Regions from separate parts of the Homo sapiens genome. Here all the other regions are linked to region 1. The links come from fine-mapping of genetic effects on gene expression. A gene starts in region 1. Each other region holds a variant in brackets. All regions are shown on one strand. Distances are from middle to middle. Region 1 holds the start of FAM13A-AS1 (FAM13A antisense RNA 1). Region 2 overlaps FAM13A (family with sequence similarity 13 member A). Region 3 overlaps HERC3 (HECT and RLD domain containing E3 ubiquitin protein ligase 3).

The links.
Region 2: its variant is fine-mapped to the expression of FAM13A-AS1 in cerebellum (GTEx, PIP 0.93).
Region 3: its variant is fine-mapped to the expression of FAM13A-AS1 in blood mononuclear cells (TOPMed, PIP above 0.99).

The regions. Positions count from the first base shown.
Region 1 is chr4:88,705,824-88,714,010 of GRCh38, reverse strand. It overlaps FAM13A-AS1 (FAM13A antisense RNA 1), which reads right to left and starts at 4,222. Exons shown (of 5, transcript NR_002806.2): 1 at 3,746-4,222; 2 at 1,994-2,156. It overlaps HERC3 (HECT and RLD domain containing E3 ubiquitin protein ligase 3), which reads right to left. Exons shown (of 26, transcript NM_014606.3): 26 at 5,472-7,259. The coding sequence ends at 7,051.
Region 2 is chr4:88,882,068-88,890,254 of GRCh38, reverse strand. All of the region lies in intron 6 of FAM13A (family with sequence similarity 13 member A), which reads left to right. Among named protein-coding and RNA genes, the nearest start is that of FAM13A, 170 kb to the left of the region's middle. The variant G/A (reference allele first, on the strand shown) is at 3,793.
Region 3 is chr4:88,641,859-88,650,045 of GRCh38, reverse strand. HERC3 (HECT and RLD domain containing E3 ubiquitin protein ligase 3) reads right to left here. Exons shown (of 26, transcript NM_014606.3): 4 at 47-206. Among named protein-coding and RNA genes, the nearest start is that of NAP1L5, 52 kb to the left of the region's middle. The variant A/T (reference allele first, on the strand shown) is at 4,964.

The DNA of each region.
Region 1 (8,187 bases):
TAGGCAAGAAAGAAGCGGCATCCAAATTGGAGAGGAAGAAGCCTTGTTCTTCCTCTCACAGGCAAGAACATGTATCCTTGTTCACAGGCAACATGATCTCATATTTAGAAAAATCTAAAGACTCCACCAAAAACTATTAGAACTGAAAAATTCAGTACAGTTACAGGATACAAAATCAACATACAAAAATCAGTAGCATTTCTATACACCAATAGCTAACAATTTGAAAAAGAAATCAAGAAAACAATCCTATTTACAATAGCTACAAAAAATTAAATACCCAGGAATAAATTTAACCAAAGTGAAGGATCTCTATAATGAAAACATAAAACACTGATGAAAGAAATGGAAGAAGACAAAAATAAATGGAAAGATTTCCCATGCTGATGGATTGAAAGAGCTAATACTGTTAAATATCTATAGTACCCATGGCAATCTACAGATTCAATGCAAGCCCTATTAAAATACCAATAAAATTCTTCACAGAAATAAAAAAAAAACTATTCTAAAATTCGTATGTATCACAAAAGACTCCTAATAGCCAAAGCAACCCTGAGAAAAAAAAGCTGAAGGCATCACATTACCTGACTTAAAAATATACTACAGGCAGGGCGCGGTGGCTCATGCCTGTAATCCCAGCATTTTGGGAGGCCGAGGCGGGCGGATCATGTGGTCAGGAGATCGAGACCATCTTGGCCAACACGGTGAAACCCTGTCTCTACTAAAAATACAAAAATTAGCTGGGTATGGTGGCAGGCGCCTGTAGTCCCAGCTATTTGGGAGGCTGAGGCAGAAGAATGGCATGAACCCAGGAGGTGGAGCTTGCAGTGAGCCAAGATCATGCCACTGCACTCCAGCCTGGGTGACAGAGCGAGACTCCGTCTCAAAAAAAAAAAAAAAAAAAAACTACAAAGCCATACGAACCAGAACAACATGGTACTGGCATGAAAACAGGCACATACATAGACCGATAGAACAGAATAGAGAACCCAGAAATAAATTCACATGTTTACAACCAAGTCATTTTTGACAATGGTGCCAAGAACATACATTAGAAAACGGACAGCCTCTTCAATAACTGGTGCTGAGAAAACTGGATATCCATATGCAGAAGAATGAAACTAGATTCCATACCTCTCACTATGTATAAAAAACAAATCGAAATTGATGAAATTAAGACCTGAAACTATTATATAAAACTGCTAGAAGAAAAACATTGGGGAAATGCTTCAGGACACTGGTCTGAGCAAAGATTTTTGGGTAAGACCTCAAAAGCACAGGCAGCAACAGCAAGAATAGATAAATATGATTACATAAAGCTAAAAAGCTTCTGCACAGGAGTGGGAACAATCAACAGAGTAAAGATACAACCTACAGAATGGGAGGAGATATTTGCAAACTGTCTATCCAATAAAAGATTAACCAGAATGTATAAAGAACTCAAACAATTCAAGAGTAAAAAAAAAAAATGTGATTTAGAAATGGGCAAATGATCTAAATAGACATTTCTCAAAAGAAGACATATAAATAGACAACAGGTATTAGAAAAAATACTCAATATCACTAATAATGAGGGAAATGAAAATCAAAACCACAGTGAGATACCATCTCATCCTTGTTAAAATGGCTGTTATCTAAAAGACAAAAAATAACAGACACTGGCAGGAATGCAGAGAAAGGGGAATGCTCACACCCTTTGGTGGGAATGTAAATTAGTGCCAGTATAGAAAACAGTATGGAGATTCCTCAAAAAACTAAAAATAGATCTACTATATGATCCAGCAATCCCACTACTACGTATATGCCCAAAATTTGAAAGGAAATCAGTATGTCAAAGAGACATCTGCATTCCCAAGTTTGTTGCAGCACTGTTCACAATAACCACGATATAGACTCAACCTAAGTATCCATCAACAGATGAATGGATAAAGAAAATGTGGTCTATAAACATGAGGGAATATTATTCAGTCATGAAAAAAGAATGAAATCTTACCATTTGCAGCAACATGGATGGAACTGGAGGTCACGATGTTAACTGAAATAAGCCAGGCACAGAAAGACAAATATTGCATGTTCTCATTCACATGTGGGAGCTAAGAAAGTTGCTCTCATGGAGGTAGAGAATAGAATGATAGTTACCAGAGGCTGGGCAAATACTAGGAGGAGAGGGATAAAAAGAGGTTGGTTAATGGGTACAAAAATAACAGTTAAATGGAATAAGCTCTATTGTTTGATAGCACAATAGGGTGGCTATAGTTAATAATTTATTGTATGTTTAAAAATAGCTAGAAGATTTGGAATGTAACCAACAAAAAGAAATGATAGATGTTTTGATATCTTAATTACCCAGATTTAATCATTATGCATTCATTGTATGCTTGTATCAAAATACCACAAGTACCCCATAATACGTACAACTATGTACCAATAAAAAAGTATTCAAAAATAAAAAGCTTATTAATAAAAGAAAAAAAAAAATCTTCTGAAAAAAAGAATTCTACAGAGAAGGATCCCCTAAAGGGTATGAAGTCCATCCCTCTCTCAGTGTTTTACAAAGGGGCCTGTCTTAGTCCAGTCAAGCCACTATAACAAAATGCCAAACACTAGGTAATTTACAACAGAAAATCATTTTTCACAGTTCTGGAGGCTGGGAAATCCAAGATCAAAGCACTGGTGGTGTCTGGCGAGGGCCTACTTTCTCACAGATTGTGCCTTCTTGCTGTGTCCTCACATGGTAGGGAAGGCAAGGCACCTCTCTGGGTTCTCTTTTATAAGGGAACTAATACCACTCATGAGGGTTCTGCCCTTATGATATAATCACCTCCCAAAGACCTCACCTCCTAATACCATCATCTTGGGGGCTAGGTTTCAACACATAAATTTTAAGAGGGAAACAAACATTCAGACCATAGCAGTGCCCACTGGCATCTTGGGCAGGATAAAGAGGAATTGTTCTATGCAATGCAAGGCATTAAGCATACCTGGTTCCTGGCTACTAACTACCAACAGAGACCTCCAGCTTCACTTGAGACCCACTGCAAATGACATGAGAACTGCACTGATCACTACTGAATTGCACACTGGCAGCAAAACAAAATTCAGTGTGATGTCTTTGCAGATACGTGGAACTCAGTGCGATGTCTTTGCAGATACGTGGAACTCGGTGCGATGTCTTTGCAGATATGTGGTCAAAGAAGTTACCTGCCACATTACAACATTCCTTTTTATTTGGCTACTGAGCAGCCTTAATCCAATTTGTTGCCCATCTCTAGCAGCTGGGCATAACACAGATTAATGGTCAAGTCCAGGTCCCACTATTTTGTGATAATGAGCAACTATTTTCTCTAATTAATTCCTTCATGTGAAAAACTGGGATAATGGTAATTCTAAGTACTGAGAGCTTATTATGTGCTAAGCGCTATTCTATATGCTTTCCATTAATTCATTTAATCCTCACAACAACTCCATGAGGTAGGCACTATTTCTGTTCTCATTTTGAAGAGGAAGAAAATGAGACATAGGTTAAGAAACCTGCCCAAGGTCAAACAGCTAGTAAATAGCAGAGCCAGGAGGACCCTGGTAATGGCAATTAAACTAGTTAGTGCATAGCAAATGTTGGTGCAGGATCTCATATGGGTCTGGTACACTGCACACAATTAATACAGGTTAGTTATTATTAGGTCGAAACCTTAGTATTAATATCTACTTCTGTGGGTTAATCTTAGTTAAAACTTGATTTTCTTACCTCTGAGGCAAATAAGCCCAAACAGTTGTTCTCTCTGATTCAACATCAAATTATGACTCAAGTTCCTCCTAACACTTCAAGAAGGTTTTTCACTCTGTTACTGTAATTTTTGCAAGTCTGGTCTCATAAGGATTGGTCAGTTGTTTTCTGTAAAGGGCTAGATAATATGTTAGGCATTGTAGGCCATCCAGTCTCTGTCATGTATCCTTCCAGTTTTAAAGTTTTCAACCCTTTTAAAATGTAAAAACCATTTTAGCCCATGGGCCATAGTTTGCCAACCCCTGCTCTCTGGGATTATTAATAAGAGTACCATATAAAACATCAAGAGACTTTCACATGGAGTAGATGGAACTATCAGAATTTGCTAATTGCCTCATTACACCGTCATTGATCCCCACCCACCACAATAAAGTTGCCAGATAATTTCATTAAAGTGGTAAATGACTAAAACAATGAAGAAGCATCTGAAAGTTTTCAGGGGAGGGAAGGTTGGTAGGTGGGTAGGCAAATCCAGAAATGCCTATGCAGAAGATTTAAGTCTTCTAAAGCATTGGTAATGAAGGGGAAAAGGAAACTATCTTAGAAAAATCATAGTGTTTTAGAAGCAGCATAAGATATCATTCATGCAACAAATCTTTAGAAATATGTATTGGGTATCTCTATGTTCAGGCACTCTCTCAGTAATGGAATTATAAAATTTTAGAGCTCAAAGTAACCTTAGAAATCATCTGATCCAATCTCATTTCATGGATGAGAATTCTGAGGCCTCAAAGTTAGTTAAAATAATTTGGCAATTTCTGTGCAAAATTAAATGTAGTGGGGTTTGTTTTTAACTCCTCAAATGTAGCACTTATGTAGATTATTAAATGTTTGTTGAATGGAGCTTATTAATGGAAAGCTCCTATTCTCTTTACCACCTTTAAACCACCTTTTTAATCTGGCAAAACAATACATTTTACTTGCTTTACCAATTTACTTAAAATCCTTTCTTTTTTTTTTTTTTTTGCTGTGTCTCACAAACTTTTGGTGTGCTTAAATGGCCTAACAATCACCAATCACTAAATGAACCAGTCTCTGATCCACCTTTAGTGCCTCCTTCTCCCTGCAGGCTCCTACCACCTCCACTCACTCCCCCTACCTCTCCTCAGATACTCTTCTCTAGTTCTGCTGCTGCCACTGTCACTGCTGTCTCAGCTCCTGTCTTTCTGCTTCAGTCCTTCCCACCTCAATACCTCCAGATTTAGACCATCCACATTTTCCTTCTTAAGACCCGGCTCAGGTCTTATCACCCTCAAGTTCTGAACATTGAAACAAATCCTACTTGGCTACTACTAAAGTTCCAGTGTTAGGCTAGTTCCTCAGCCCCAAATCTACCTTCTTTCTCCCAAGTCTTACTTACCATTATTTACTATTATTTGCCTATTTCCTCTGATGTTCCCTTCAAACTGTTCTTGGCTCTTGCCTAAATATGCCCCAATGTTTGAGCCTTTGCTAAAGCATCCCTCTCCATGAGAAACACCTTTTCGTCCATCCCAACCTTCAAAAACTTCATTCTTCCTTAATGCCATCTGCTCCTTGCCCCTGCTTTCTTCTCCATTTCTGCAGCACTTGGCTCTACTTTCTTATGCAGGAATCAAATCTGACCTTCTATTAGATTATCTGAGTATACGACCTAATGCTTCTACTAAAAGCAAGCTATCCATTCTGCAAGTACAATAAGAAATAGTTTTAAGTTAAAACACCAAATTTATTGCATAATATTGAACTATATGCACACACATAGAAAATAAACATTTCATATAACTGTATATATATTTTTAATCCTGTATTTATAAAGACTGAAAAACTACCAATTTAGCAATTGGAATAAGTTTTAAAAACAAAAAGAAAAAGCAAAAATCTACAATCCTTCATCAAGATTTGATGCTTTATCACAGTTCATAAATACTTCATTTTATATAAATAAGTCTTTTCTCTAGTTACTAGGAATTTAAAATTAGACTTACATGGATTCTTTAATCATGTAGAATTTTCTTACTCCATGATGAGGAAGGTTGAGCATGTCATTATTTTTAAAATACATATATTTGATTTAAACACAATCCCCCCTAAAATCCCACTGTAAACAAACATTTCGAATGTGATAAAGTTTCATAATAAAGAACGTCCTTAAATCTTAGCAATTAGGGAAGAGGAAAAAAAATCTGAGTAAAAATTTTGCAATTTAAATAAAAATTGAAAAAAAGGCTGCATGCATCCACTAGAAGGAGAGGAGAGGAAGGGAGCACTGAGTCAAGTAACAGAGAATGGGATAAAATAAAGAAGAAACGAAAGGAAAATCAGGGAGGACACAGGGTACGAAAAGGAGAAAATAAGGGAAGGGAGGAAGGAGAAAATGGTAGAGGACATAAGGTGATAGAAAAAGGGAAAGTAAATTTATTATTTCTACTTTTCTTGGACAATATAGAGACTCAAAATAGTTAATGCAACTTGCTCCAAAAGCGAGAGTGCAAGAGGTGGTGGGTCTATCAATTAACCTTATTGTCAAAGGGACAAGGATGAGCAAGAAAAAATTAGGCTCAGCTGCAACGAATGCTAAGCTGCTCTGCACATCTTTTAAAAGGTCTAGGAAATAGGCACAGCCATGGGAAAGTTGCTATTCCCTCAAGAACTTTTTAAAAGCAAGATATGTTTATATAGGCTCCCATAAATTCTTAGGAGTTCTGCCAAAATAATGGACCCAGACTCAGCTTTTTGGAATTGGGAGTTTCTGAAGCAGTCCTTTCCTCCTTTGGGTTAAAGGAGGGCTGCAACAAGCCAGAGGCATTTCCAAGTGTACAGAGGAAGGTGATGTTCTCGCATGCGCAGATAAAAAAGGACAGGTCAGTCTAAATCATTCTTATAGAGGAATGAGAAGTTAAGAGAAGGACAAGGAAGCACTGTGAGAAAACATCAGGGCTGAGAGAGACATTTGGGAAATTAAAGTTTAAAAATCCACTGCCATTTCATCCAGCAGAGTGCAACACATTCACAAGTGCAAGGAATACTGGGTAGTTTGGTTTAAAACAAAAACAAAAACACCTCCCATACAAGGGCCAATTTTTCACCCCATCCCCAACCTCTAATTTTTCAAAAAGGTTGTTTACTGCTATACAATCCCAGAAACACATCAACCAGGCTCAGTATTTAAAAGTCCCAACCCACTTAGACAATAAAAAAATAGAAATCACTCCCCATGATTTTCTGTATAGGCCTCAATGTGGACACTGAGGAACGAAGGGAAATACTGGACAAGCTGAGAAGCCTCAGGCCAAACTAAACCCTTCATAGTTGTCAAGGGCCTGGGTCAGCCGGGCACTCAGAATCTCTTTGCTGCTGTACTTGGGGAGGTCAAGAAGGTTGTAGCAAGTGTGGGCCACCGGCAAGTACTCCTCCCCGCTGGCTGTGGACTGGATGACAATCTGCAGACTGGCCATGCCGTAGATGGGAATCCGATCGCTGCCTGTCAGGAACACTGGGGAGAACGAGAAATGGCATTAGCAGCTAAGCAAACGGAAAATGGATCTCAGAGATCCTTCTGGCAACAGGAGAGGAAGGCATGACACCCTGTGGCTTGCATGAGAAGTACAATTACATTTATGTGCCAATATGCATCCTGTGGAATGAAAATTAGATGCCGTTAAGAAAAAAAAAAGGCCTCAATCAAATGTACACCCTCACAAATGTTAGATTTCACAAAATCAAAGAGGGAAGGAATTGCTGTCATAGGAAAAGAGGAGCTGATCTTAAGGGGAAAACAGAAGAAGACTGAAGTCTCTGACCTCAGGGTCTCCTCTCACCTCAAGTGCCTGATGCCTGTACCACCTTGTCTACGGAATTCCATTTAGGATCTATTTGCTCTCCTTTCCACGTCTCCATTTTTCTTAAACCCGAAGAGCTGACCCAAACATTATGTTAGACATTGCACTCTTGTGACATGCACTGTGACTTGGCAAAAGAGAGAGAGGGAGACAGACAGAGAAAGACAGCTCCTTGTTTTCTAGTGCTGAACAACACTCTCATAGTTGAATTGCTGGAAATTACTATAAGAAAATCATTAGTTAAGAAGCACTTTCAAATAACCTGCCATTCCCTGAGGCTGTGATACATAAAGTTTCTTGCCAAAAATCTCCAGAGTTAACAAACATTTCTGTAAGTCTAATGAACAGAAAGTGCCATTTTCTAGGGAAATTCCAGGACCATGAGCAGGCATCTCTTGAATGTCACAGCCCTACAAGCTCACTTGGCAAACCTTAACCTGTCATTCAGCTCTTCCACTACTGCTTCTCAATAGCCAATGCAGCCAGGCAGAGGAGAAGTGGTCCCTCTTTTTAAGAATTCTTGTGTAAGATCTCCACTTCCTCTCATCCTTGCTCCCATGTGAGCAGCAGAACCTGTTAAGT
Region 2 (8,187 bases), 180 kb before region 1:
CTGAAGCTTAGGCTCAGTTTGAACATTTCATCCCATCTATTGTATGCCAGGTGCTGGGATGCAAAGGTGAACAGCCACTGCCTCTTACCTCAAGGAGCCAGGCTGAGCTGGAGACCAGACAGACATACAGGCAACTAAATGAAAACATCACATGTGCTGGACTGATTTTCTGACCTCCAGTCTACCTTTGGTTTCACCTTCCTATTTGGCCAAGAACCAAATTATCCTGGTTGCCCTCATTTTTCATTAACCCTAAAGTTCTCACTGGCCTCTATGTTCCAGTTTCCCTTCATTTGCTGTGTTCTACAATTATGACCAATGCCTAGCCAAGGTTTTTAATGCTAACTGCTGTAACAAACATCCCCATTATAGTATGGGCTATGTTCAAAATCAGTGTATTTCTCGGTTCTTTCACAGTCTGTTGCAGGTAGAGTGGGATTCCTAGGCAGCAAGACCCTAAGCAGTGATTCTAGTCACAGGCTGCTTCCATCTTCTACTGGTTTCATCTGAAAACATGCCCTCTGAAATGGACACTGAAAAAGAAGATAGAAGGCGTGTGCAAAGTTCACAGGTCCATAACCGCCACAGCACAGAAGTGATACTTATCCCTTCTACTTACATTCCAGAACTCAGTAACATTCTTGGAAGTCTGGGAAATGTCATCTTCCAGTGAGCACAGGAAGAGGGAATGAAATAGGAGTTGATGAATACATAGTATTATTGCCACAACTCACCCTCCTGTTTGCCACCTATATTTTTCCATTTCTTTTATCATGCAAGAAACACATTTACTCCCTCTACAAAGATGAAAATCCAAAGAACCAAGCAGTCATTACAACCAGCTTACAAGACCAGAATTTCCTGATAATACATGAGTACTCCATCTGGTCTAGACATGGCTCTTCTTGGTCTGAGGATCTATGAAATAAAAAGACGAATTGCCTGTCCCTCCCTCCACACACATATTGCCATATACAAATCAGACAGCATAACCACACTCAACAATCCCATTCACACTTCAGCAGTATACAAATGGGACAGTATAACCACATTCAACAATGCCATTCACACTTCAGTACACAAACACACACACGCACAGAAAGTAGTGGAGGCTCCCTGATTAGACCTAAATTCTGTTTTCTGTGAGGAATTCCATTGCCTGTTTTCTTTCTGGCTGCTGCCTTCACCCCTGCGATTCCCCTCCTTGTCATTATTCCCCTGGGAGTGGGTATAGGGAGTGTGTTCCTTCAACTATGCAGCTTTCCTACTGTTCATGAAAGTCTGGTGACTCGAGGAATTTTTTTTTTTTTTTTTTTTTGGAGACGGAGTCTCGCTCTGTCGCCCAGGCTGGAGCGCAGTGGCACAATCTCGGCTCACTGCAAGCTCCGCCTCCCGGGTTCACAGCATTCTCCTGCCTCAGCCTCCTGAGTAGCTGGGACTGCAGGTACCCGCCAACACACCCGGCTAATTTTTTTTTTTTTTTTAGTATTTTTAGTAGAGACGGGGTTTCACTGTGATAGCCAGGATGGTCTCGATCTCCTGACCCGTTGATCCGCCCGCCTCGGCCTCCCAAAATTCTGGGATTACAGGCGTGAGCCACCGTGCCTGGCCTCAAGGATTGTTTTAAGCCTTGAACGACAAAGGCTTGTTTAGTCTGGGATGATTTATTTATTTATTTACTTTTAATGATAGTAGTGGTAGTTGCTTAGTTGGTTTGTTGTGGCTTGAAGGAAGTTGACAGTAAGTTCACTCAAAAATGTAAAAATTGACTTTTGATCTGTTTGCTTTCAGTCAGGTCCATGTGCCAGCTATAATACCCAAAGTAGCATTGTCTTTTCCTCTGCCTTTCAAATCTCAAGAGAAATCCTCTCACTGGAAGACATTTACCAGAATCCCACTGGCAGAAGATTCTGGGAAATACAGTTTCTGGGCTTTAAGCCTGGCAGTACAAAGCTATCTTATAAAAATTATATGAAATTATGTTTCAAATAAGCAGAATAAACCATATGTGCTGTTAAATTGATTAGAGCTGGCTTCATGGAGGAGACAGAATTTAAGTAGAAAATTTAAAAAGAAGAACTGGAAACTGGCCAGAGGAAAGATTTCAGTTAGAATGACATAAGCAAAGAGTATAAGGAGAAAATGAGCATCATATGCTTTGAGCAGAGTTGATAGACCAGTCTATAATGGGTAGAAGGTTGATGAAGGGAAGTATTAGAAGATAAATTCTGAAAAATAGGCTGCAGCCAAATTGTAGAGTGGTTTGATTTTTAAATCTTGCATAAAGATTGCCTTGCTGTCTGACAAAATTTACTAAACAAAATCAAGAGCAAACAAACATAAAACAAATTTAAAGAATAAAGGGAAATTTATTTTCTTGTCTCAGAGAGGTTTTAGAAAAATAACAAGAAAGGCACATATGGACCAGGCACGGTGGCTCACGCCTGTAATCCCAGCACGTTGGGAGGCCAAGGCAAGCAGATCACTGGAGGCCAGGAGTTTGAGACCAGCCTGGCCAACATAGTGAAACCCTGTCTCTACTAAAAATACAAAAAAATTAGCTGGGCATGGTGGCACGCATCTGGAATCCCAGCTATTTGGGAGGCTAAGGCAAGAGAATCACTTGATCCCTCGAGGCAAAGGCTGCAGTGAGCTGAGATCATGCTACTGCACTCCAGCCTGGGCAACAGAGGGAGACTCTGTCTCAAAAAAAAAAAAAAGAAAGAAAGAAAGGTACATATGTGAACCAAATGATAATTACCAGAGAGTTATTTTTTCCTGGGTCAGATGACTAGAGAATGAAAGCTCTTTGGCTTCAAAGCCTTACAAAAGCAACTGTCACTTAATAGTAATGTATCCTTGAGCTCATTATGGAATATTTAGTTATCTCAGTATTCTAAAATTTTTCTGTTTGCAGTTTGTCTTCAATTGGATTTTTCAAAAATTTATTTCTTTATTTATTTATTATTTCAATAGGTTTTTGGGGGAACAGGTGGTGTTTGGTTACATGAACAAGTTCTTTAGTGGTGATTTCTGAGATTTTGGTGCACCTATTACATGAACAGTGTACACTGTACCCAATGTGTAGTCTCGCCCCCTCCCACTCTTTCCCCAAGTCCCGAAAGTCCGTTGTATCATTCTTATGCCTTTGCATCCTCAGAGCTTAGCTCCCACTTATGAATGAGAACATACGATGTTTGATTTTCCATTCCTGAGTTACTTCAATTTAGAATAATGGTCTCTAATTCCATCCAGGTTGTTGCGAATGCCATTATTTTGTTCCTTTTTATGGCTGAGTAGTATTCCATGGGTAATATATATATCATAATTTCTTTCTTTTTTTTTTTGAGATAGAGTTTCACTCTTGTGGCCCAGGCTGGAGTGCAATGGCATGATCTCAGCTCACTGCAACCTCCACCTCCCGGGTTCAAGTGATTCTCGTGCTTCAGCCTCCCGAATAGCTGGGATTACAGGCATGCGTCACCATGCCCAGCTAATTTTTGTATTATTAGTAGAGACGGGGTTTCACCATGTTGGCCAGGCTGTTCTCAAACTCTTGACCTCAAGTGATCCACCCACTTCAGCCTCCCAAAGTGCTGGGATTATAGGCGTGAGCCACTGCACCAGGCCTATATACCATAATTTCTTTCTTTTTTTTTTCTTTTTAAGATGGAGTCTCACTCTTGTCATCCAGGCTGGAGTGCAGTGGTGCGATCTTGGCTCACTGCAACCTCTGCCTCCTGGGTTCAAGCAATTCTCCTGCCTCAGCCTCCTGAGTAACTGGGACTACAG[G/A]TGCATGCCACCACGCCTGGCTAATTTTGTAATTCTAGTAGAGATGGGGTTTCACCATGTTGGCCAGGCTGGTTTCAAACTCCTGACCTCAGGTGATCTGCCTGCCTCGGCCTCCCAAAGTGCTGGGATTACAGGTGTGAGCCACCACACCCAGCCACCAAAATTTCTTTATCCACTCGTTGATTGATAGGCATTTGGGCTGGCTCCATATTTTTGCAATTGCAAATTGTGCTGCTATAAACATGCGTGTGGAAGTATTACTTTTGTTTAATGATTTATCTTCCTCTGGGTAGATACCCAGTAGTGGGATTGCTGGATCAAATGGTAGATCTACTTTTAGTGCTTTAAGGAATCTCCACACTGTTTTCCATAGTAGTTGTACTAGTGTTCATTCCCACCAGCAGTGTAAAAGTGTTCCATTTTCACCACATCCATGCCAACGTCTATTTTTTTTTTTTATTTTTTGCTTATGGCCATTCTTGCAGGAGTAAGGTGGTATCACGTTGTGGTTTTGATTTGCATTTCCCTGGTCATTAGTGATGTTGAGCATTTTTTCATATGTTTATTGGCCATTTGTATATCTTCTTTTGAGAATTGTCTATTCATGCCTTTAGCCCACTTTTTGATGGGATTGTGTGATTTTTTTTTTTTTTTGCTAATTTGTTTGGATCCTTGTATATTCTGGATATTAGTCCTTTGTCAGATGTATAGATTACAAAGATTTTCTCCCACTCTGTGGGTTGTCTGCTTACTCTGCTGATTGTTTCTTTTGCTGTGCAGAAGCTTTTTAGTATAATTAGGTCCCATCTATTTATCTTTGTTATTGTTGCATATGCTTTTGGGTTCTTGGACATGAAGTCTTTGCCTAAGCCAATGTCTAGAAGGGGTTTTCCAGTGTCACCTTCTAGAATTTTTGTGGGCTCAGGTCTTAGATTTAAGTTTTTGATCCATCTTGAATTGATTTTTGTAAAAGGTGAGAGATGAGGATCTGGTTTCATTCTTCTACATGTGGCTTGCCAATTATCCCAGCACTATTTGTTGAGTAGGGTGTCCTTTCTCCACTTTATCTTTTAGTTTGCTTCATTGAAGATCCATTGGCTGTATTTGGCATTATTTCTGGGTTCTCTATCCTGTTTCATTGGTCTATGTGCCTATTTTTATACCACTACTATGCTGTTTTGGTGACTATGGCCTTATAGTATAGTTTGAGGTTGGGTAATGTGATGCCTCTAGATTTGTTCTTTTTGCTTAGTTTTGGATTGGCCATTCAGGCTCTTTTTTGGTTCCTTTGGTTCCATATGAATTTTCAGATTTTTTTTTCTGGTTCTGTTAAGAACAATTGGTGGTATTTTGATGGGAATTACATTGAATTTGTAGATTGCTTTTGGCAGTATGGTCATTTTCACAATATTGATTCTACCTATCCAAGAGAAGAGGATGTGTTTCCATTTGTTTGTGCCATCTATGATTTCTTTCAGCAGTGTTTTGTAGTTTTCCTTGTAGAGGTCTTTCACCTCCTTGTTTAGATATATTCCTAAGTATTTGATTTTATTTTTTTACAGCTATTCTAAAAGGGGTTGAGTTCTTGCTTTTATTCTCAGTTTGGTTGCTGTTGGTGTATAGCACAGCTACTGATTTGTGTGCATTAATTTTGTTTCCTGAAACTTTGCTGAATTCATTTATCAGTTCTAGGAGCTTTTTGGAGGACTCTTTAGGGTTCTTAGATATACAATCAGATCATCAGCAAACAGCGACAGTTTGATTCCTCTTCAGCAGTTTGGTTCCGCTTTCTTTCTTTCTCTTGTCTAATTGCTCTGGCTAGGACTTCCAGTACTATGTTGAATAGAAGTGAAGAGAGTGGGATCCTTGTCTTGTTTCAGTTCTTAGGGAGAATGCTTTCAACTTTTCCTCATTCAGTATAATGTTGGCTGTGGGTTTGTCCTAGATGGTTTTATTACGTTAAGGTATGCCTCTTCTATGCCAGTTTTGCTGAGGGTTTTAATAATAAAGCGATGATGGATTTTGTCAAATACTTTTTGTGCCTCTATTGAGCTGATCATGTGATTTCTGGTTTTAATTCTGTTTATGTGGTGTATCACATTTATTGACATGCATATGTTAAGCCATCTCTGCATCCCTGGTGTGAAACCCACTTGATCATAGTGGGTTATCTTTTTGATATGCTGTTGGATTTGGTTAGCTTAAGGATTTTTGCATCTGTGTTCATCAGGGATATTGGTCTGTTGTTTTCTTTTTTTTGTTATGTCCTTTCCTGGTTTTGGTATTAGGGTGATACTGGCTTCATAAAATGATATTGGGAGGATTCCTTCCTTCTCTATCTTGTGGAATAGTGTCAATAGGATTGGTACCAATTCTTCTTTGAATGTCTGACAGAATTCAGCTGTAAATCCATCTTTTCCTGGACTTTTTTTTTGGCAATTTTTAATTAGCATTTCAATCTTGCTGCTTGTTATTCATCTGTGCAGAGTTTCTAGTTCTTCCTAGTATAATCTAGGAGGGTTGTCTGTTTCCAGAAATTTATCCATCTCCTCTTGGTTTTCTAGTTTATGTGTGTAAACGTGTTTATCGTAGCCTTCAATGATCTTTTGTATTTCTGTGGTAATTTCAATTGTAATACCTCTCGTTTCATTTATAATTGAACTTATTTGGATCTTCTCTCTTTTTGTGGTTAGTCTCACTAATGGTCTATCAATTTTATTTATGTTTTGAAAGAACCAGGTTTTTGTTTCATTTATCTTTTGTATTTTTGTTTGTTTCTATTTCATTTAGTTCTGCTCTGATCTTCATTATTTCTTTTCTTCTGCTGGGTTTGAGTTTAGTTTGTTCTTGTTTCTCCAGTTCCTTGAGGTGTGACCTTAGATTGTCTCTTTGTTCTCTTTCAGACTTTTTGATGTAGGCATTTAAGGCTATGAACTTTCCCCTTAGCACCACCTTTGCTGTATTACAGAGGTTTTGATAGGTTGTGTCACTATTATCATTGAGTTCAATGAATTTTTTAATTTCCATCTTGATTTCATTGTTGGCCCAATGATCATTCAGGAGCAGATTGTTAAATTTCCATGTATTTGCATGGTTTTGAAGGTTCTTTTGGAGTTGATTTCCAATTTTATTCCACTGTGGCTTGAGAGCATACTTGATATATTTCAATCTTCTTAAATTTACTGATACTTGTTTTGTGGCTTATCGTGTGGTCTATCTTGGAGAATGTTCCATGTGTTGATGAATAGAATGTATATTCTCTAGTTGTTTAGTAGAATGTTCTGTAAATATCTTTTAAGTCTATTTGTTTTAAGGTATAGTTTAAATCCAGTGTTTCTTTGTTAACTTTCTGTCTTGATGACCTGTCTAGTCCTGTCAGTGGAATATTGAAGTCTCTGACTATTATTGTATTGCTGTCTATCTTATTTCTTAGGTGTAGTAGTAATTATTTTATAAATTTGGGAGCTCCAGTGGTAGATACATTTATATTTAGGATTGTGATATTTTCCTGTTGAACAAGTCCTTTAATCATTATATAATGTCCCTCTGTCTTTTTTAACTGCTATTGCTTTAAAGTTTGTTTTGTCTGATATAAGAATAGCTACTCCTGCTTGTTTTGTTGTCCATTTGCATTAAATATCTTTTTCCAACCCTTTACATTAAGTTTATGTGAGTCTTTATGTGTTAGGTGAGTCTCTTGAAGATAGCAGATAGTTGGTTGGTGAATTCTTATCCATTCTGCCATTGTGTGTATTTTAAGTTGAGCATTTATGCCATTTACATTCAACATTAGTATTGAGATGTGAGGTACTGTTCTATTCATCATGCTGTTTGTTGCCTGAAGACCTTGTTTTTTTTTTTTCCATTGTGTTTTTGTTTTGTAGGTGGTATGAGATTTATGCTTTAAGGAGGTTCTATGTTGGTATATTTTCAAAATTTAGAGCTCCTTTTAGCCTTTCTTGTAGTGCTGGCTTGGTAGTGGTGAATTATCTCAGCATTGTCTGAAAAAGATTGTATTGTCTGAAAAAGACAATACAGCATTGTCTGAAAAAGTCCGTAACTTTCCTTCCTTTATGAAGCTTAGTTTCACTGGATACAAAATTCTTGGCTGATAATTACTTTGTTTAAGCAGTCTAAAGATAAGCCCCAATCCCTTCTAGCTTGTAGGGATTCTGCTGAGAAATCTGCAGTTAATCTGATAGGTTTTCCTTTAGAGGTTAACTAATGCTTTTGCCTCACAGCTCTTAATTTTCTTTCCTTCATCCTGACTTTAGATTACCTTATGATTATGTGCCTAGGTGATGATCTTTTCATGATAAATTTCCCAGATGTTCTTTGAGATTCTTGTATTTGGATATCTAGATCTCTAGCAAGGCCAGGGAAGTTTTCCTCGGT
Region 3 (8,187 bases), 64 kb after region 1:
GCAGGAAATAGCATTTAAAACGACTGACATTTGAAAACCTTCTTACCTGGGCACTGCCACAGAATCCTCAGTAGTCATGAGTCCTAGCTGACCATCACTCCCTGCACCCCAAGAAAACAGCTGGCCTCGGTCACTGAGGGCCAGACTGTGGGACTCGCCACATGCCACATGAATGATATGCTGATCTGCCAGAGCTCCAATTTGTTCTGAAAGAGACAAATTGGAGGAGGAAAATGTACAACCCAGAAACAGGAATACTGCTACCATTACACAGGATTATCTTCCTGGGCAGTTTTATTTTTTAACAAGAACCACTTAATCTGAATATTTATAGAGATTATAAATTTCACATATTTCTAAACTCTATCAATTTACATTCGGAGACCCGGGGTAACACACATCCCAGATATACTATAGTATATACTATAACTATAGTAGCACACACATCCCAGATGTTCCCTGAACCTATACAGCCATGTGCCTGGTGCTTCTCTCTCCAGGGAGAAGCCTGTACTATTTGGAGATGTTCCATCCAAGAGGCCTAAATGTTGAGTGGAAATGAAACATATTTCTAAAAGTAGCGGGAGTGAGTGAAACTCTGCCTGGAACAATGAGACCCTCTCCCCCCACATACAAACACACCCAGAATGCTAAACAACTTTCTCCCCTCAGTTCTGGATCACAGTCTTGTCTGTATCCAGCCAGGAAACAGAAGGATCTCTCTCTGGGAAAACTGGCCCAAAAGACAAGACCCACAGATAGTGACATTTGTGCATCCCTCAATGAAATGTCTAGCTTCCCATCAGTCAACAAGAATCACACACGCCATGTGAGCGGACACACACAGCTCCACTCACGTTAGCACCTCACCCTTCAATGTAAAAGGCCAGACAAGGATCACCCTATGTGTGAGGAAAACTTAAACATGAAAGGCAAAGAGCAACATAAACAGAAGGAAATGAACTCTGAAAAAACAGATCATGCAGGGAGCAAAGTTTCTTAAAAGTCTTTTGAGAAATCAAAGAAGATATTTCCACTCATGAACTAGAAAGAGAGTGCTATAGGAAAGTATTATTCAAAAAACAAACCAACAGAAATATCTTGGAAACCAAAAATGTGGTAGCATAAATTTAAAAAAAAAAAACCTTCAAAAGCAGGATTGAAAGTTAGAAATGAAGAGATTTTCTAGGAAATAGAAGAAAAAAGCAAAGAGAAAATCAGAAGGGGAAAAAAGATAAGAAATTATAGGATTGTTCCAAGAGGTCCAACATCCAGAAAGAGAATGGAGAAGACACAAGATATAAATATTTCAAAAAAAAATCACAAGAAAATTTCACACTGAAAGGATCTATTAAGTGCCCAGAATAATGACCAACAAAATACCTACTGTAGAACCCTTCATCTTGAAATTTCAGAATAACAAGAAAGAGTCTAAAAGTTTCTAGAAAAGAACATGTTTATATACAATAGAACAGGGATCAGAATGGCATCATACTTCTCAGAAGCAACACCGAAAACTGTAAGACAATGGAGGGATGCCCTCACAATTCTGAAGGAAAGTAACATCCAATCAAGAATTCCATACACCAGCTGTGAATGAAATGTGAGGCAAGGGGAGCAAAAGGGCAGTTCTGGAGCATGTAAAGCTCTCAAAATATTTTACCTCCCATACTGCTTTTCTCAGAAAGCTACTGGAAGATATGCCTCCAAAACAAAGAACTCAGGATTTAGGAACCAGGAATCTTACACAGACAGGAAGGAGGTGAAGAACCTTTCCAGACAGCTATGTAGCATGCCTACAAAGCAAAGGTGGAGGGATGTCTCCAAGGTGAAAAAGAAAACACTACTTAAAGAGTTTTAGAGCATTATGAGTTTTATAATTCTACCAGAGATACAGAGGTTACTGTGGAAAAAAAAATTAAAGTCAGTAACTTCAGGAAAAACTAAATGATTTATGAGAAAGAAAAGCAATCATGGTACATGCAATCATAATAACCAAACAAAAATACTTTCCATAGTTAATAATTGTCAAATTTTATTTAAAAGATTAACTCTTTGGGGAAGGATGAGTGTCTGGTGGTGAGGAAGAGGAGAGGGTAGGTAGAGAATATAACAGAACTCTAATCTTTGCCAGTGTGAAGTTTCCAGATTATGTCCAATATTGAAAAAAATCAAGAAATAATATTATAAGCATGTTATTTAGAGACATAAAGGTAAGCAGCAAAAAAAAAAAAAAAGCTAAAGAGTTGAAATGATAGGGAGTGAGATTCAAGATAAGGACAGGTGAGGCAGGGAACTGTTATTTAACCTGAACACAGTTTGCATAAATATATTCCTTCAAAACAATAACACTTTTTTTAACTGAAAATATGCTCATGCCAGAGAAATTACCATAATAAACAGAAAGATTCTGTAATTCCTATTGTTCCCATTGTCCATCTTCTTTAACCTCTGCTCACTACTTACTTCCCAACTCAGCCTTGCACCAGGCACAAAGAATAGTCCTATCTTTACCTTGCAAAAATGTAAGGAACGCTATCAAAGGAGCCCAGGTGGCTCAGACTCCACTCTAACCAAATTTCCACCTTGTACCAATTCCAGGACTTGGACGGCTTTTCTGTTCTCTAGACCTGGGGCCTAGCCTGATGCCTTATTCACGACTGAGGCCTGTCTCTTGGTACCTAACCTTCCTGCTACTGACTAGCAGCCTTACCTGTCTGAATGTTAGTATATGGCCTAACACAACACTAATAATTTTCCCCACTATCCTGACAGAATACTGTCGCTCTGATCTGTCTGCCGTTTTCTTTCCCTCAGTCTCTCAATAGCATCCCTCTCTTGATCTTGTCTTTACTACAGCTTAGTAGCCTCAAAAGGGAACACCTGGATTCCAATGACCATTGACTCCCAGTCACGTCAATCTCTAGGCAAACCAATTCCTGTCCCATCACTCACCAGCCGCACCTGAGCTCCTTTGATAGCATTCCTTACATTTTTGCAAGGTAAAGGACTATTCTTTGTGCCTGGTGCAAGGCTGAGTTGGGAAGTAAGTAGTTGAGTAGAGGTTAAAGAAGATGGACAATAGGAACAACAGGAAATCCAGCTACCCTCACCACAACAATAAAACCTGCAGCCACAAAGGCAGAAATACTGTTCAGCAATGCAAATGTTGATGGAGAACCAAACCACTGGTTACACAAGTCTAACTTATTCTATTTCTTCTAGCCAGAAAACTGCGCTCGTCTAATTCAGGCTGGAGATCTGTCACTGTGGAACTATGATCCCTCTTCTAGAATCTACCCCCTAGGTCAGCCCAGTGTGCTGATGAATGCCTCATTCACTCCCCTCTCTGAATACACCCCTGCCCCACTTGGGAACATTCAGGCTGAAGTGCCCTCTGATTCATTTTCACATGCAGTCTCTTTTGATCCATTCCGTCAAGACTATACACTATATTTTGCAGATGATGATGGAACCTCAACCCACACATTAAAATAACTAAACACACTGAAGAAGCATTTGGTATTTTTCGAGAATAAAAGTATACTTTCTCTTTGAACCTTCCACAGCAACACTTTAAAGTTTTTAAAACTCTTTAGTAATGTTTCCAGTTCTGAACAAGTCATGGTAGTTAGGACAGCACAGTGGCCAATGTGGAGTGCTGCTTACAGCAAGTCTGCCGTTCAGCTGGACTTGCATTATTAGGGTTAGTTCTACTTAGCTCTTGAGCCCATCATAATTTTTTAATGTTTTTTGAGTTAATGGTAAATTTGTCATTTAACCACCAAAAGATGGTAACTGAGAAGGATGATATGAGTCTAGGGGGTAGATGGATGATGCAGATTCTTAAGCCTTGCAACAACCCTGTAAGGCAAGGGCACAGGGTTGTTGTCCTCAGCTCAGAAAGAGGATGTAATTTGGCCAAGGCTCACAACTAATGATTGGTGGAACTGGGATGGACACCAGGTCTGTCTGACTTCAAAGCCCATTATACTTAACTAAGCTATATTGTCTTTCCTCTGGAGAAGAATTAGATAGATTTTAAATTGGTAAAAGTAACCTACAAAGTGAATACCCTATTTATGGATAATGGAAAACTAACTTTTTCCTCATCGTCTGTTCACACGAGAAACACATCCAATGGCTTACAGTAAATAATATCAGCATCTGGGTAGAAAGGACAGTAGTTCCCCCTTATCTGAGGTTTTGCTTTCCAGAGTTTCAGTTACCTGCGATCAGTGCAGTGCAAAAATATTAAGTGGAAATTTCCAGAAATAAGCAACTCATAAGTTTTAAATTGCATACCATTCTGAGTCATGTGATGAAATCTCTCACTGTCCCGCTCTACCTGGGACATGAACCATCCCTTTGTCCAGCATATCCATGCTGTATATGCTCCCTGCCTGTTAGCCCCTTAGTAGCTGCCCCTGTTATCAGATTGAAAAAGCATAGTATATATAGAATTTGGTACTATCCAAGGTTTCAGGTATCTAGTGGGGGTCTTGGAACACATCCCCTGCAGATAAGGAGGGACTACTATATACAGTATATACAAAATTAGTGATTAACAGTTGGCACTAAGTTTTTAATAAAACTATCACAAAATAAATGTAAGCAGTTGATAGTACAAAGAGGGTTAAACTTTCACCACTTAGATGTCTCCTTTCTGCTTTTCCGCAAATTGTCAACTCTACAATTATACTTTTCTTTAATAGTAGAAAACAAGACAGAGACATATTGTAGGAAACCCAGTTCTTCACCCTACCATTCTGCACATTCTAAGTCCTCACATTCACCCTAACTCTTGATTTCCTGTTCCCACCGAACTCTTACCCTCCTGCACATCTTTCCTCCTGCTGCTATACTCTGCTCTCCTGACTGCTTTTTCTCCAAAATACTATCAACCCAGTCTGTGGGGTGCAGCAGACTTTTATTGAAAGTCTGGGTGATGGAGATACACTGT[A/T]TCTCGGCAAACCGCTCAAAACAAAATATTGTACATCCAAGTTCCTCTGCAGTTCCCAACACAGAAGATGGCCTGGTATCTAATTTTCATCCTAGAGTCTCCCTGCCTCCCACAACATGACTAAGTCTCTTTCCCTCATTTTGTTTGTTCCTGTATCTGAAAGGTCCTTTTCCAAAGCCATATTCCAATTTATTTCTTAATTAATTACTTTGGTCTAAACATTTTGGGGTATCTGGACTATTTCCATAAGAGATTTTCTATCTTGTTTCTGAGCCAAGGCACTGAAACCAGAGTCAGCTTCAAAAAATTTTTAATTATCATAGAATAAACTTGACCTTTTTTTGGTATATAAGTCTATGAATTCAAACACATGTAACTACACAAATAAGTCTATGAATTCAAACACAATCAAGATACAGAACAGTCCCATCACCCCAAAAATGTTCTTCATGCTATTCCTTATAGTTGCATCCTCTCCTCATCCTTAACCCCTGACAACCAACAATCTGTTTTCTCTCACTATAGTTTTGAGTTTTTTATGCTGTCATGTAAATGGAATCATATAGTGTCTAACTCTTTGAAACTGGATTGTTTTACTCATAATGCCTCTGAGATTCAATTAAGTGGTTGCATGTATCAACAGTTTGTTCCTTTTATTGGTAAGGAGTATTCCACTGTATAATGGATGAACTACAGAGCACTGTTCCCAGTTTTTAGTGATTATAAATAGAGGTGCAATGAACATTCACATACAGCTTACTGTATGACAATAAGTTTTCCTAACACTGGAGTAAATACCCAGGTGTGAGATTGCTAGGTTATGTGGTAAATATATGTTTATTTAAAAAAAAGAAAGAAAAAACCTGCCAAATCATTTTCCAGAATGGCCATCCCATTTTGCATTAACACCAGCAATTATGAGAGTTCCAGTTGCTCTGCATCCTTGCCAACACTTGCTATTATCAGTATTTAATTTTACCCATTCTAACAAGTATAATGGTATTTCATTACGGTTTTAATTTGCATTTCTCTAGTGGCTAAAGATGTCAAACATCTTTTCATGTGCTTATTTGCCATCCATCCTCTTTGGATAAATGTCTGTTCGAAGTTCTTGCCAATTTTTAAAATTAAATTTTTATTTCACTATTGAGTTGTTTTTTCATTCTCTTAACACACTCATAGATAAGTCTACTTTAACAACTTTTTCCTTTATGGATTATGTTTTTGGTGTCATGTCTAAGAACTCTCTGCCTAACCTCAGGTTATGAAGAATTTCTCCTCTGCTTTCTTCTGAAAGCTTTATTGACTCACATTTTACATTGAGATCTGTGATTCATTTTGAGTTAATTGTTTTAAAAAGCTGTGAGATTCAGATCAAGGTTCTTTTTTTTAAGGTATGAATGTCCAAGTGTTCCACTACCCTTTGCTAAAAACAACTAACAAAATCCTTTCTATATGGAATCTCTTTTACATTTCCATCAAAAGTCAATTAACCACATTTGTGTGGATATATTTCTGGGCTTTATTCTGTTCTATTGGACTGCGTCTACACCTCTGTCAGTACCACATACCCTGGATTACTATACCTCTATAGTAAGCCTTAAAATCAGGTGATTCCTTCAACTTTATTCATATTTTTCAAAATTGCTTCAGGTATTCTAGATCCTTTACCTTCCCATATAAACATTATAATTGGCTTGTCTATATCTACAAAAAAAGAATCCTACTGGAATTTTAGCTGAAATTGTGTTAAATCTATAAGTCAACTTGAGAAGAACTGAAATATTTGCTATAATACGTTAAGGGCCTTAATCCATGAACACAATATGTCTCTACAGTTACGAGGTCTTGGATTTCTTCTACCAGACTTTTGTAGTTTTCAGCATATAAATCTTATATATGTTTTGTTAAAGTTATACCTAAGTATTTTATTTGTTTGGAAATATTATAAATTGTATTTTTTATTCCAGTTTCCAATTGCATATCGTTAATATATAGATATAGTACATTTTTGTGTATTGACCTTAAATCATACAAATTTAACTAATAGTTTTTTAATTTTCAATGTAGACACTGCAATTTTTAATAGAAAGAATTTTTTCTGAGAATAGAGATGGTTTTTTTTCTTCCTTTCCAATTTGTTTGCTTCCCCCTGCCACCCACACACCCCCCGCCCCCATTCTTTCCTTATTACACTGGCTAGGACTTCTAGCATGATGTTGAATAGCAGTAGTGAGAGTGGACATCCTTGCCATGTCCAATGGTCTGAATGTTTGAATCCCCCAAAACGTATATGCTGAAATCAACCCCAAAGTGATGGTGTTAGGTATTGCAGCCTTTTGAGAAGTGATAAGGTCATGAGGGCAAAGCCCTCATGGTTGAGATTAGTGCCCTTATAAAAGAGACCATAGAGGGCTGGCTAGCTAGCCCCTTTCACTGTATGAAGATAGAGCTAACAAGGTACCATCTATGAGGATGACAGTGCTCGGCAGACACCAAATCTGTTGGCACCTTGGCCTTGAAGTTTCCAGCCTCCAGAACTGTTAAGAATAAATGTTTGTTCTTTATAAGCCAACAAGTTTGTGATATTTTTGTTATAGCACCCCAAATGAACTGAAAGAATGCAATCTTCCAACACTGTTTGACATAGCTATAAGATTTGTTGGTAGATGTCCTTCATAAGGTTGAAAAAGTTTTCTTCTACTTCTAGTGTGTTCCTCATGAGAGTTCTTGTCATAAATGGATGCTGCATAATGTCAAATTCTGTTTTCTGTATCAACTGACATAACCATGTGAGTTTCTTCTTTAGACTGTTTTTCCTATTGTTTAAAGCAGATTTTATTTCATCAGTGTCATTTCTTATCTAAATGCTTGATAACATTTGGCAGAGAAACCACGTGAGTCTGGAGGTCTAGAGATTTCTTCCTTCCTTTTTTTTTTTTTTTTTTTTTTGAGACAGAGTCTCGCTCTGTTGCCCCAGCTGGAGTGCAATGGTGTGATCTCGGCTCACTGCAACCTCCACCTCCTGGGTTCAAGTAATTCTCCTTCCTCAGCCTCCCGAGTAGCAGAGATTACAGGCATGCACCAGCATGCCCAAGTTAATTTTTTTTATTTTTAGTAGAGATGGAGTTTCACTAAAAATACAATATGTTGGCCAGCCTGGTCTTGAACTCCTGGTCTCAAGTGTCCTGCCCACCTCAGCCTCCCAAAGTGCTGGGATTACA